4 linked regions of the Homo sapiens genome follow. The protein of the gene in region 1 interacts with the protein of each later gene in a pairwise test. Each region holds a gene or a part of one and is shown on either strand. Other genes may lie near its edges.

What was found. The genes of interacting proteins can lie anywhere in the genome.
Region 2: the proteins of RFC5 (region 1) and TRIM38 interact in binary tests that used the Homo sapiens proteins (3 or more experiments, as listed by UniProt).
Region 3: the proteins of RFC5 (region 1) and XIAP interact in binary tests that used the Homo sapiens proteins (3 or more experiments, as listed by UniProt).
Region 4: the proteins of RFC5 (region 1) and ZNF19 interact in binary tests that used the Homo sapiens proteins (3 or more experiments, as listed by UniProt).

What each region holds. Positions count from the first base shown.
Region 1 is NC_000012.12:118,023,202-118,026,831, forward strand, and holds part of RFC5 (replication factor C subunit 5), read left to right. Parts: intron 1-1,649; coding exon 1,650-1,809; exon of another isoform or gene 1,810-1,813; intron 1,814-2,545; coding exon 2,546-2,627; intron 2,628-3,630. UniProt on the Homo sapiens protein: Subunit of the replication factor C (RFC) complex which acts during elongation of primed DNA templates by DNA polymerases delta and epsilon, and is necessary for ATP-dependent loading of proliferating cell nuclear antigen (PCNA) onto primed DNA.
Region 2 is NC_000006.12:25,976,181-25,979,810, forward strand, and holds part of TRIM38 (E3 ubiquitin-protein ligase TRIM38), read left to right. Parts: exon of another isoform or gene 1-1,915; intron 1,916-3,630. UniProt on the Homo sapiens protein: E3 ubiquitin-protein and E3 SUMO-protein ligase that acts as a regulator of innate immunity. Acts as a negative regulator of type I interferon IFN-beta production by catalyzing 'Lys-48'-linked polyubiquitination of AZI2/NAP1, leading to its degradation.
Region 3 is NC_000023.11:123,901,432-123,905,061, reverse strand, and holds part of XIAP (E3 ubiquitin-protein ligase XIAP), read right to left. Parts: intron 1-3,630.
Region 4 is NC_000016.10:71,476,195-71,479,445, forward strand, and holds part of ZNF19 (zinc finger protein 19), read right to left. Parts: intron 2,812-3,251; coding exon 2,685-2,811; intron 2,148-2,684; coding exon 2,034-2,147; intron 79-2,033; coding exon 1-78. UniProt on the Homo sapiens protein: May be involved in transcriptional regulation.

The DNA of each region.
Region 1 (3,630 bases):
ATGATTTGGCAGCGGGAGGGACAGCACCCTGCGATTTGTCTGTCTTCAGGGGCCTAGCGCAGTTCTTTTCTCTTAAAGGACACTTGTCATCTCTCATTAAGATTCCAAGTGAATCAGCTTTGAGAGAAGAACGATCTTTAGGAGTTTGTGGCGAGGGAGTAGATGGCAGCACATGTTAAGAGAAGGATGGGGGAAGGGGGAGGAGGAGGAGGGGGGAGGAGGGGAGGAAGAGGAGGGGGTGAGGAGGAGGAGGGGGAGGAGAAGGCGGAGGAGGAGGGTAGGGGGAGGTGGAGGAGGAGAGGTGGGGGAGGAGGAGGAGGAGGAGGACAGCGAGAATATCTTCTGGTCCTAGAAGCTTGGCAGCCTTTCTTCGGCATCTTGTTCTGCCGAGTGACTGTCATTCTGGGCAGATCCCCATGTGAGAACATTGGGTACCTACAGAATGGAACCGGTGTCATAAGCAACTCTTTGTTCGGGTTATTGCTCCCTTGAGTGCTCTAAGGCCTCCAGACAGTCTCCATGGAAAAGTCTGCAAAAAGCCGCCCTCCCTGCCCATAGAAGGTGAAGTGTCATCAACCTGCCAAATATAATTTTATGTAAAAGGACAAGAAGTCTCATAGTCTTAATGGGATTACATGGCAAAAGTGCCAGAATCATGGCAAATGGTAAAAAGGAAGCATTTTGTAAAATCCCACGGAGGCATGTTTACCAGTTTGTGAAAGAGGGGTGGCTAGGCAGGGCGCAGTGGCTCACACCTGTAATCCCAGTACTTTGGGAGGCTGAGGCAGGCATATCACCTGAGGTCAGGAGTTCGAGACCAGCCTGGCTAACCGATGAAACCCCATCTCTACTAAAAATACAAAAATTGGCCTGGCACAGTGGCTCATGCCTGTAATCCCAAAGGCCAAGGCGGGCGAATCATGAGGTCAGGAGATCGAGACCATCCTGGCTAACATGGTGAAACCCCGTCTCTACTAAAAATATAAAAAATTAGCCGGGCGTGGTGGCACGTGTCTGTAGTCCCAGCTACTCAGGAGGCTGAGGCAGGAGAATCGCTTTAATCCGGGAGGCAGAGGTTGCAGGGAGCCAAGATCGTGCCATTGCACTCCAGCCTGGGCAACAGAGCGAGACTCTGTTTCAAAAAAGAAAAAAGAGGAGTGGCTAATCTCTGATCTGAACAGGCCAGCACTGCCCTGTCTTGTCATAGGCTGCAGCCTCACTTGTTTACATTCTTTCTTTTTTGAGACAGAGTCTCACTCTGTTGCCCACGCTGGAGTGCAGTGGAATGATTTTGGGTCACTGCAACCTCCACCTCCCGGATTCAAGCAATTCTCCTGCCTCAGCCTCCCAAGTAGCTGGGATTACAGGCATGTGCCACCACACCTGGCTAAATTTTGTATTTTCAGTAGAGGTTTTGCCATGTTGGCCAAACCTCCTGACCTCAAGTGATCCTCCCGCCTCAGCCTCCCAAAGTGCTGGGATTACAGACGTGAGCCACTAAGCCACTACGCCCGGCCAACATCCTCACTTGTTTGCAGTATTGAATCTTTTCCTATACCCTTGTGACCACAGAAAAATTCAAGTTTTCTGGGCTCTCTGAAAAATCAGAATGGACTTTGACATGAGGTGGTTTTATTTTCTCTTACTAGTAATTGAGAAATTCACAGAAAATACCAGATTCTGCCTCATCTGTAACTATCTGTCAAAGATCATCCCTGCCTTGCAGTCCCGCTGCACGAGGTTTCGGTTCGGTCCCCTGACTCCTGAACTCATGGTTCCCCGCCTGGAACATGTCGTGGAAGAAGAGAAGTGAGTATTTTGCGGGCCTTTGGGGATGGAGTGTAGTAGAAACAGGCTTGTGGGATCACTGGCTGGTTCGTATGTAGAGGAGAGGAATGTTGGAAAACGACTTTGCAGAGTGCCTAGCACAGGGGAGGCACTGGGGACCGTCCACTGCTATCATTTTCTCTGCTGTCTCAAGGCCATTCCTCATAAAAGTCATTTGGTACTTCATTTTTCTTGATTCCATCCTCCTCCCCTGGAAGCTGTCCCAATTTCCTCCTACTCTTCTTTGTCATTGGAAACTGCAGGCTGCTGAGTCCCTTCTGCAAAGATGCTTCCAGCCTTTTTAGACTAGAAGGGAAGGTTCTAAGACATCACATTCTGTGTAGTCAGATGCCAAGCAAGTAGCCGACCTGAGCAGCTGCTTGTTGTGAAGGAGGAGTTTCGGCTGTGTGATCATGGCTTGTGCCAGGCCTCTGTCCTCCCCAGAGAGCAGAATTCAAGACGACTGGCTCCATGGGAGAATGCTTGTTCCTAAATTCAGGCTGTTCTCGATTTTGGTTGGCTGTGACTACTAATGTGAAGCCCAGGTCCCTAAAAACCAGAGTGAATTCTAGATCATATAGATCAGGAGATTATTAACTCTGTTCCTCTCCTTCCTTCATCCCTTTAAAGCCTTAATCATTCCAGGCCATCTTGTTCCTTTGGTGAATGCTGGTGCTCTCAGGGGGCCTCATAAATCCCTTTTGCTTATTTCTTTCAGAGTTGATATAAGTGAAGATGGAATGAAAGCACTAGTCACTCTTTCCAGTGGAGACATGCGTAGGGCTCTGAACATTTTGCAGGTATGGTCTCAAGCAAATCCTTTTTTTTTTTTTTTTTTGAGACAGAGTCTTGCTCTGTCGCTCAGGCTGGAGTGCAGCAACACAATCTCAGCTCACTGCAACCTCCGCCTCCTGGGTTCAAGCGAATCTCCTGCCTCCTGAGCAGCTGGGATTACAGGTGCCCGCCACCACGCCCTACTAATTTTTGTATTTTTAGTAGAGATGGGGTTTCGCCATGTTGGTTAGGCTGGTCTCGAACTCCTGACCTCAAATGATCCATCTGCCTCAGCTTCCTAAAGTGCTGGGATTACAGGCATGAGCCACCATGCCCAGCCTGGTCCCAGCAAATCCTGAGTCATTGTTTTGTAATAGTTTTTGAAGAAAGACCTAAGCAAAGGCATGATCAATCTGTAAATTTTGAAATCTACAGCTGGTAAGACCTTGGTCTCATAACCTGCAGGATTCCCCCTCCTCACTTTGTATTTTGATTAATTGAAAAAATCACTTGTTGCAGGCCAGGTATGGTGGCTCACGCCTGTAATCCCAGCACTTAGGGATGCCGAGGGAGGTGGATTGCCTGAGCCCACGAGCTGGAGACCAGCCTGGGCAACATAGTGAGACTCTGTCTCCACTAAAAAATCATGAGCCAGGTGTGGCGGTGCACACCTGTAGTCCCATCTACTCAGGAGGCTGAGGCAGGAGGGTGACTTGAGCCTAGGAGGTCGAGGCTACAGTGAGCCATGATCATGCCACTGCACTTCAGCCTGAGCAACAGAGCAAGACCCTGTCTCAAAAAACAAAGAGAGAGCAAAAGAAAATGTTTTAAAAACAAAAGGAATCATTTGTTGCAAAGAAGGCAAAGGGAGGGAAGGATTTGGCACTGGAATAGCCAACAGGCTGTGGCATCCTCTGATGAGGTGACTCTTCCGGTATTGAATATGTGGGTTCCCACTGCCTTGTGCCCATAGAACTTTGCTGCTCACCTGCATTGCTGCCTTGGCAATTTCTTCTTGGCTCCCTGCAG
Region 2 (3,630 bases), on another chromosome or scaffold:
CATAACTAGAAGGTAGTCATAGAAAGAGTCTAGAGTCTAGAAACCACTCTCTCACCATTTTGCAATGTGGCAGAAAATGCAAAGTTGTTATTTACTTATCTCTTTTAGACAGGGTCTCACTCTGTCACCCAGGCTGGAGTGCAATGGCCCCATCATGGCTCCCTGCAGCCTTAAATTCCTGGGCTTAAGCAATCCTCCCACGTCAGCTTCCCCAGTAGCTGGGACCACAGGCAAGCACTGCCACGTCTGGCTAATTTTTTAAAAATTTTTTGTAGAAACACTATCTCTTTATTTTGTTCAGGCTGGTCTTGAACTCCTGGGCTCAAGCAGTCCTCTCGCCTCGGCCTTCTAAAGTGTTGGGATTACAGGCATGAACCACCATCTCCGGCCTGAAGTTTATTTAATCCATTGCCTTGTGGACTGGGCATTGAAGTTGTGTGTAGTTGGGTTTTTTTGTTGTTGTTGCTGTTGCAGACAATACTACTGTGAACATTCTTATCCATGCTTCCTTGTGTCCCGTAAATGTTCCCTCCAGGGAGATACCTTGGAGTGACATGCTGGTGTGAGGGATGCATATCATAATTTTACCAGATACTACAGATCTTGAAATTGTTCCAATTCTACCCCACAAGCAATATAAGAGCTCTCACTCCTCCAAAACTCCCTGAGTCTTTACTTATATAATTTATGATTTTGACAGTCTTACAGATTTAAAATGGTACCTAATTGTGTACTTAATTTGTGCTTTTCTGATTTCACTAGTGAGATTGAGATTCTTTTTGTATGTCCATTAGCCCTTCAGGCCTCTGTGATTTACCCATGATTTACTGTGGTTTAATAATTTTTATTGGGTTCTTTTCCTTATTGATTTATGGGAACTTATTATAGCTGATATCTTCTGGCATGTGGATGGCATTTTGCATTTTCATCCTGTTTTTTGATAAATAGGGTTTCAAAATTAAGTAGACACATTTTCCTTCAAGGTCTGTGTCTTTTATGTCCAAAGAGCTTAGTCATCAGTGGGCAGTGAATTTTATCACCTAATTAATTTTATTAGCCCCGTGTGCTATGCCTGTAGTTCCAGCTACTGGGGAGACTAGGGCAGGAGGATCTCCTGAGCCCAGGAGTTCGAGGCTGCAGTAAGCTATGATCACGCCACTGTACCCAGCCTGGGCAACAGAGCTAGACCCTGTCTATTAAAGGAGGAGGCCGGGTACAGTGGCTTACGCCTGTAATCCCAGCACATTGGGAGGCCGAGGCAGGAGGATCACTTGAGGGCAGGAGTTTGAGACCAGCCTGGCCAGCATTGTGAAACCCTATCTCTACTAAAAATACAAAAATTAGCCAGGTGTGGTGGTGTGCACTTGCAGTCCTAGCTACTCTGGAGGCTTAGGCAGAATTGCTTGAACCCAGAAGGCAGAGGTTGCAGTGAGCTGAGATTGTGCCACTGCACTCCAGCTTGAGCGACAGAGTAAGACTCCATCTCAAAAAAAAAAAGAAGAGAGATGAAGGAGGAGGAGGAAGAGAAAGAGGTGGGGGAGGGGAAGGAAGAGAAAGAAGAAGAAAGGGACAAAAAAATTTAGCTGTCATCTTTGCTCTGATAGCATTATAATGATGATGAAGACAATTGCTAGGTTGGTGAGAGAAGGCTATATACACACCAGAACTCTCCACGTATATGGCAAGTTCATATATTTTGTTAAGTATGTCTCATTGGAGACCTTCTTTTCCCGTAACTATGACCAGTGCTCTGCCAGCTCAGTCAACAACAACATTGCATGTTGGCTCCATACCTGGACTCTTGGTCCAATTGGTAATGAAACCATCCCACCAGTGTCTTCATAATATATATATACACACACACATATATATATAGTATTCTCTCCCAGTGTCTTCATAATATATATATATACACATACACACATATATTATATTCTCTCTATACATATTTATTTATATATCTATATCTATATCCTTCCACCTCAGGTCTCCCTCTGTCTCCCAGGCTGAGTGGTGCAGTAGTGCGATTATGGCTCAACCAATGAGAGGATCAATGGCAATCCTCTCATTTCAGCCTCCCCAGTAGCTGGGACTACAGGCATGGGCCACCACATCTGGCTGATGTTTAAATTTTTTTGAGACAGCATCTCTATATGCTATAGATATATATAGTATCCTCTCTCTAATATGGATAGAGGATACTATGTCTATATCTGTATCTATCTATCTATGGAGAAGGAATACTATATATCTAATAAGATGTAATCTATATTATATATAAAAGTGAAGCATTGATTGGTACATATAATATATATATTGATTACTGTGTGTATATATTTGTTTTTTCGAGACAGGCTCTCACTCTGTTGCCCAAGCCGAGTGGTACAGTGGTGCGATCATGGCTCCACCACCTGAGCTAAAGTGATCTTCTCACCTCAGCCTCCCCAGTTGCTGGGACTACAGGAACAGGCCACCATACCTGGCTAATTTTTTAATTTTTTTTTGAGACAGGGTCTCCCTTTGCCACCCAGGCTGGAGTGCACTGGCGCAATCTCGACTCACTGCAATCTCCACCTCCCAGGCTCAAGTGATCCTCTCACCTCAGCTTCCCGAGTAGCTGGGACTATTGGTGTGCACCACAATGCCTGGATAATTTTTCATATTTTTTGTAGAGATGGAATTTGGCCATATTGACCAGGCTGGTCTCAAACTCTTGGACTCAAGTGATTGACCCGCCTCAGCCTCCCAACGTGCTGGGATTACAGGCATGAGTCACTGTGCCTGGCCTGATTATTGTACACATTTTTGATGTAATGTATTATATATGTCATATATGACAATCTAGATGAATATATTAAAGATTGGGTTTTCATTTATATATTGTAAAATACATACACTATACATATATAATATGTAGAACATATGCTATACATATTATATATGTATATGTTAACATATATAATACATACACATATAATATGTATAGTTGCAAATATAAAATTTGGTTTGTTATTTATATTATTTTGTGCAGGAGTTCTATATCTATGTCTATAAGCGGGAGCCATAATTTTCTATTCTTTGTAGGATTTGGTATGAGATTGGCATTACTCATGCCTTGACTTCTAAATTTCCTATAAAACTGACAAGTTCCATTTTTGCTTGATAAAGATGCACGTTTTATTATCTGTCGGTAAAATTTAAAGTAGTGATTTCATTTCTTTAATGTTAGGTCTGCCCATGCTTTATTTGTTTTTTGAGTGAGTTTTACTCAGAAATATTTTTTCTAGGAAGTAATAATTTTATCAGTACTTTCAATTTTATTAGTAGCATAAGATTTATTATAAAGTTCTGTAATATTTAAAAAGTTTCTGTATTCATTCCATTTGTGCCTTCTGTCTTACTTTGATAAATCTCATTGGAGGTATGTCTATTTTATTAAATTTCTTTTAAAAGAAGCTACCTTTTTTTTTGTTTGTTTTTCCTCTTTATTGCATTCTTGTTTTCTTTAACTTCACTGTTATATTGTTTAATATCTATTTTTTCTTTTTAAAAAATTATATTTGGCTTTCTATGTTCTTTTTAAAATTTAAATTAGATGCTTGGCTCATTAATGTTCAGCTTTTTAATTTT
Region 3 (3,630 bases), on another chromosome or scaffold:
CATAATAAAAACTATAGGCTCAAACATGGAATGCATCAGAGATAAGAAGATAAAGCACTTACCCTTAAGAAGCTTGGTCTAATGGGCAGGGCAGAAACCAGTCCCAAAATAGTGTAAAAAGCAAAATGCTCAGCCAGGCCTGGTGGCTCACGCCTGTAATCCCAGCACTTTGGGAGGCTGAGGCGGGCAGATCATTTGAGGTCAGGAGTTCAAGACTAGCCTGGCCAACATGGTGAAACCCCATCTCTACTAAAAATACACACAAAAAAAATTAGCTGGGTGTGGTGGCGCATGCCTGTAATCCCAGCTACTCGGGAGGCTGAGGCAGCAGAATCGCTTGAACCTGAGAGATAGAGGTTGCAGTGAGCTGAGATTGTGTGCCACTGCACTCCAGCCTGGGCGACAGAGCGAGACCCTGTCTCAAGAAAAACAAAACAAAACAAAATAAAACAAAACAAAACTCTACCAGCACCAGGAGTAGATAAGAAGGAGCTCCTAACTCTGCTGTGGGTGCGGGAGAAAACTTGAAAGAAGTGACTTCTGAGCTGAACCTTGAAACATGAGTTCACAAAGTAGATTCAGGGAGTTGGGGGTAGAGTGGGGAATGGGACTAGGTATACAGATAGAGAAAACGTACTCAAGGCAGAGGAAAAAATACAAGTAAAGAAACGGCACTATAAGCTGATTTATATTATAAGAAAGCATCAACACCAAAAAAAGTCAGAATGAAGTGTGTATTTCATGCCAAAAAAATCAAAAGGAGAACAAGTAATTTCCACATTACTTTTAGATGTAATGCTACAACGAGTTAAAAACAAACAAACAGGCTGGGCGCGGTGGCTCACGCCTATAATCCCAGCTCTCAGGGAGGCAGAGGCGGGAGGATAGCTTGAGCCCAGGAGTTCGAGACCTGCCTGAGCAATATAGTGAGACCCCGTTCTCCACAAAAAGGAAGAAACAAACAAACAAACAAAGCAACAACAATACTGACACCTAGAGTAGTCAAATTTATAGAGACAAAAAGTAAAATGGTAGTTGCCAGGGGTTGGGAAGAGAGGGAATGGGGAGTTGTTTAATGAACATGTTTTTATTATTATTATTATTTTTTAAAGATAGGGTCTTGCTCTGTATCCCAGGCTGGAGAGCAGTGGTGCAATCACAGCTCATTGCAGCCTTGAGCTCCTGGTCTCAAGCAATCCTCCTGCCTCAGCCTCCCAAGCAGCTGGAACTACAGGCGTGTGCCACCACGCCTGGCTGTTTAATGGATGTAGAGTTTCGGTTTTGCAAGATGAAGAGTTCTGGAGGTTGACTGTGCAACAATGTAAATGTACTTAACACTACGGAACCATACACTAAAAATGGTTAAGATGGTAAACTGTATGTGTATTTTATCACAATTTTTTAAAATCTAAAAAAAACAAAAAACAAAACAAAAAAAAAAACTGAAACAAACCCCAAAACACTGGACCAGAAGTCAGGAAATCTGAATTCTATTCCCAACTATCGGCGTGATCCTAGGCAACAGCCCATCTGTACTTCAGGTTCCCAATTAAGGTCATAAAAGTTATAAAATGGGCTGGGTGCAGTGGTTCATGCCTGTAATCCCAGCACTTTATGAGGCCGAGGCGGGCAGATCACCTGAGGTTGGAAGTTGGAGACCGGCCTGACCAACATGGAGAAACCCCGTCTCTACTAAAAATACAAAATTAACAGGGTGTGGTGGCACATGCCTATAATCCCAGCTACTCAGGAGGCTGAGGCAGGAGAATTGCTTGAACCCGGGAGGTGGAGGTTGCAGTGAGCCAAGATTGCACCATTGCATTCCAGCCTGGGCAACAAAAGTGAAACTCCGTCTCCAAAAAAAAAAAAAAAAAAAAAAAATTATAAAATAATCTTTAAGGTTCCTTTGGTTCTGATTGTTTGTGATACCATATCATCTCATTTTTTTCTATATTATTTCATCCTTGTATAAAGCCACTAACTTGAGATGGTGATATTCTGGGCATAGATCTTTTCCCCTCAGACCAGTAGTTTACCACTGGCAATTACTTCCCTCTTGGCTTAAAGGTAACTACTGGATTCTACATACTTCTCTACAGCGCCTTTCCCCTTCTCCTCCCCACAAAGCCCTCTTCTAGGTCAGAAGGTTACTGGCACATGAGCAATAAAGGCTAGATAACTTTTGATGTTATTTGCTAATATTTGTAATTATTTAAAACCTCTTCTAGAATAAACTGATGTTATTCATTTTACTATTAGAGCAGATTCATATGGAAAGACAGATAAGAAATGAATATGGGTTATTTGATTTTTATATTATATACAGTAATATATATACACATAAAGATTAAAATAAGTACTTTAGTACATATACTAAATAAAGGGCTTTATCTTACACTACATAATTTTTTCAAAGAAAGAAAAAAAGATACTGATTCGGTACTATTTTTACAAGACCTTTTACTAGGGCATTCTCTGTTACACAGCCATTGGCAAAAAAGTTTAGCACTAAATCTAGGATTTCTCAGTAAGTGACAATGTTATATTTTCTCTAATAACCCTCACCTGCTTCACTTCAGTTAGCCCCATCCTTATTTTATATAAAATTAAAAGATTCTTAGTGCCAGTCTTTCCTCATCAGCTTTTGGGAAGACAAATAGGCAGCAGTCCCAGCATGAGTAGAGAGCCTGTATCAATTACTTGCCTCTCAATTTAGTGAGACTGAGGAGAGTTCAAATGAATTCCAACCCTTAGGCTCTCCTTCCCACACCATCCTAGTTTGTAGTCTCAGTGATAATATGAGCGCCCATTGACTCCTGTTAGATAGAGAAAAGACACTCTCCCTAATGCACAGTCTCTTGATCTCTTCCTATTACAACCTGCTAAACCCTTCTGCTGCAGATACATTAAGGTTTGAAAACTAACAATTTATGGCCAAACAATTAAGCGCGTGTTTAAGATGCAGGAAAAAAATGACACAATTGCTTGTGTTTCTGTTATAGTAGAAAAATTCCAGCCCGGCCAACTTGGCGAAACCCTGTCTCTACTGAAAATACAAAAAATTAGCCGGGCGTGGTGGCACATGCCTGTAATTCCAGCTACTCGGGAGGGTGAGGCAGGAGAATCGCTTGAGCTGGGGAGGCGGAGGTTGCAGTGAGCCAAGATCGTGCCATTGCACTCCAGCCTGGGCGACAGAGTGAGACTCCGTCTTAAAACAAATAAAAAATTAAAAAAAGAAAGAAAGATGACAATTAAAGGGTTTATTTTACCACCACCAAGATAAGTGGAGCTTGTGTAAGTTTTAAATAAATGCATCTATAAGGAAAAAATTGGAAGCTTTCCATTGATTCTTACATCAATGAATATAATTTTAAATATCATTAATGTTCATACTGTTTCATAACTTATACGATTATCTGAATAGTGTTTCAAAAGCACTTGAAATATCTTAAAGATCAAAAGGATCTTAAATGCGTCAAAAATAAGTAAACGTTTAAGTTTTTTTAGCAGTAGGAGAATTCTCATCTTTTTGGAGGGAGGATGGTCAAGAGCTTAGAGAACTATTACAGGTAAAGTACCCAAAAGTGTACTCAGTTTGAAACTTCTTCTTTAACCTTCGATGTTGTTGGC
Region 4 (3,251 bases), on another chromosome or scaffold:
CATGTGACATCATCCCATCTCTTTCTTCAGAAATTCCCTGGATTAATGTGGACTCACTGTCAATGTTGGTCTCAACATCTGACATAAGAGATAGAAAACACAAATAATGCCACCTGAGAACTATACTAGAAATAATAGAGCATTGAAAATGATAAGGCTTTAAAAGAGATCATTTCAACTTTCACATCAGCATGCTGGGAAGAAAAGGCTGTTAAAGTGAAAGTGCCAAATATCACACAGGCAGAGAACATTGAGGTGGAACAGGGTATCAGTGGACACAACACACGAGACTGCTTCCTAAGCTTTTCTACTCTAATATTTGAATGATGTCTGGTCATCCCTGGCATGAGCTAGTATCTTTTGAATTGATGCTACTTACAGCCTACAAAATGCCAAAGAAGGCACAGGTCTTAAGAACAAGTAGTGACATCGGGGCTGGCAAGACTTAGAATCAGAAAGTGAAACAGAACAGTATCAGAAAGCAAAGGCAAAGGATGAATTGTTGTTCTTTTTAAAAACTCATACCCTGCAGATGTCCCAAAAGACTTAAGACACTGAACATTACAGACACTGGGTTGTGGCAAGACAGAGAGAAAGAAAATCACAGAAGTGCTTAGAGAGTATTATTCCCAATATGTTGTAAGATTACCTAGTTCAGAGGTTCTTAACTGCAGAACCACACATGGACTATAGACGATGAGGAAACGCCCTAAAACTGCTGAACCTCAAACATGCAGAGAAACTACTGTCCTAGACTCTCTATTTGAAAAGGGATGAACAGTTTACTTAGACACACCCAGACTGAGAGTATTCTTTCTCCTATCAGCAAAAAGGAGACAAACAGCCCATAAAATGGCATTTGTGTTCCAAAAGATTGGATGACATTTTAAATGAGTTAAAGTCAATCCATTTTATATGAAATGATGGGCTTGGTTTTAACATTAATGTGGGTTACCTGGGACTCATGTGATGGTTAATCAAGTTCATCCTATGAGTGTGAGTTAAAGGAGTAAGGGAACTCCGAAGGAGAATGTTCAGAGGAGAGTAATCTGAGATTGAAGTAAACAAGGTAACCAAGAGTCTGAAAAAGAATAATCACCAGACAGAGGAAGCGTGTGAGAACAAACCAACAGGTTCTCAATTGTCTTGATGATTCTTTTTCAGATTCTTAGAATAAGAGGCTGAAGTGCTGTGCTAGCTTCATTATTTTCCACGTATTTGCTCTCTGCAAACCACCTGCACTGAAACTCCTGCCTCTGCCTTCAATTTCACTGTTTGCTCTTGGTGGCCCCCATCTATTTGACTGTCTACTTTCTCTTCCTTCTCTCACTGAAATTAAATATCCCTTAATGGTTAAGATTCAGCCTTCATTTTTTCTTCCTGGGGATCGTTTCAACCCAGCTGTGTTAGAGTACTGTTTCAGACCTGCCTTTTATCTCAGACTCTCCACCCACCTTCTCAATGGCCTGCTCTAGCCATCCACTTGCCTATTCTAAAGGCACCTCACGCCCTGTGCTCAGCTCTGAATTCCTATGAATTCAAAAAGCTCCTCCCATGCCATGACTTCCTAGTGTTATCTGACTCAGCTCTCCCCATTTATGGCCAACTTTTGGGAAGATCTGGCCCATTTTACCTTCACATTCTCCGTCCCACTCCCAACAGCACTTAATACTTTTCTTTTTCGCTTTTTACATCTGTCTCCATAACTTGTACCTGCCAGAACTTCTTAAACAACGTTCAGCACATGGCAAGTTGCTCAAAAACTGCTCCTGAATAAATCCATCCCAACCAAGGAGGACAACTAAGGTAGGCAATGTTGAAACTCAGAAAGGAACAATGGATTCAAGGATTGCAGATGAGACGTACTGAGTGATTACATGTTGGTAAGAGTTAAGATTGGTGAGAAACGTTTCATATTTTACCTATTAGGTGAAATCATCTATTTTATTTAAATCCTGCCCAGCATGATTCATTTTAAAATACAGTGCTCCATAAAACGCTACAATTGTTGGTTCTAAATCTGCCTCACCTACCTTTACAGACGTTTTTGGTCCTCTCTGCTGGGGGATCATCCTGTGCTTCCAGGCCCCAAGCCATGTCCCCTCTCTCCAAAAGTGAGATCAGTGCAGGTTTGGGAACTGGGTACCCTGAAAACAGGAAGAAAATGGTACTTTTCAGCCCTGTATCTGCTGTGTCAAAAGAAGGAAAACCCCAGGAGTCTCAGTAAGAATAAGACCCACAGAAGAGGGTTCTCGACTGGAGAAGGCCAAAGAGATTCCGATCAACAGGAAACTGAGCATTTGTGACTTCTTCCTAAAAAAAACACTCAAGGATAAGTAAGTCAGTGAGATCCACAAGGCATGAGCAAACACAGGGAAGGGGACATGCCCTTCCCCAGACAACAACTACTACTTATTCCTTACTGTGCAGAGCCTCTTGGAAGATGGAACATACTCTTACCAGGGGACAGTAATTCCCTTCATTGGGAGACCAAAGTGACCCAAGACCTCTCCCTACCCAGCAATCTTTGAAGTTGGTCACTGAGCCTCAGCTCTGCAGTCACTCAGTGGAGGACACAAGAGACAACCTCTCCTCTCCACTCCACACTCCTCCCCCCAGGCTGTAAAAGAAGGAAGGAAACTGGAAAAGTACAGATCTGAGTCCTAGGAGGAAAATGGCCTTACCCAAAGCAGTCAGGTTCCCAAAATTCTCCAACATCACACTTCTGTACAGGGCCCTCTGGGCAGGAGAAAGGCCAGTCCATTCTGTCTTGGTGAAGTGCACAGCCACATCCTCGAAGGTCACCATCTCCTAAAACAACAGGTTCCTGCTGCCCCAGAGCCAATCCTCTGGCTCCGGGCCAGAGTGTGGGGCAGAGGGGACAGGTAGGGACTTGAGGGAAAGTCCTGTGAGGGATAGGTAATGAGAAAATGTGACAGAACTGGATATTAGACCATTATATGACTATTTTTACAACGAAAAATCTGGAACTTCTCTCACTACCAGAAGAGATTCCATTAGGATATAAAATTGACTGTCATAAAATGTGATTTAACATTTTTTAAACCCTAGGAAAAAAAGTCTCTTATTAGTTAACCTTCCTAGGGCAAAAATCTCTTTGATTTAGTAAATATTTTCAGTCTTTTACTTTTGTACCTACAGGTGGACAATTTGCTTCAAATGGTATCTCAGGACCCACCTATTCCTATTAGGTACTCCCTATTCTCAGCCAATCTATCTGTTCCCCACAT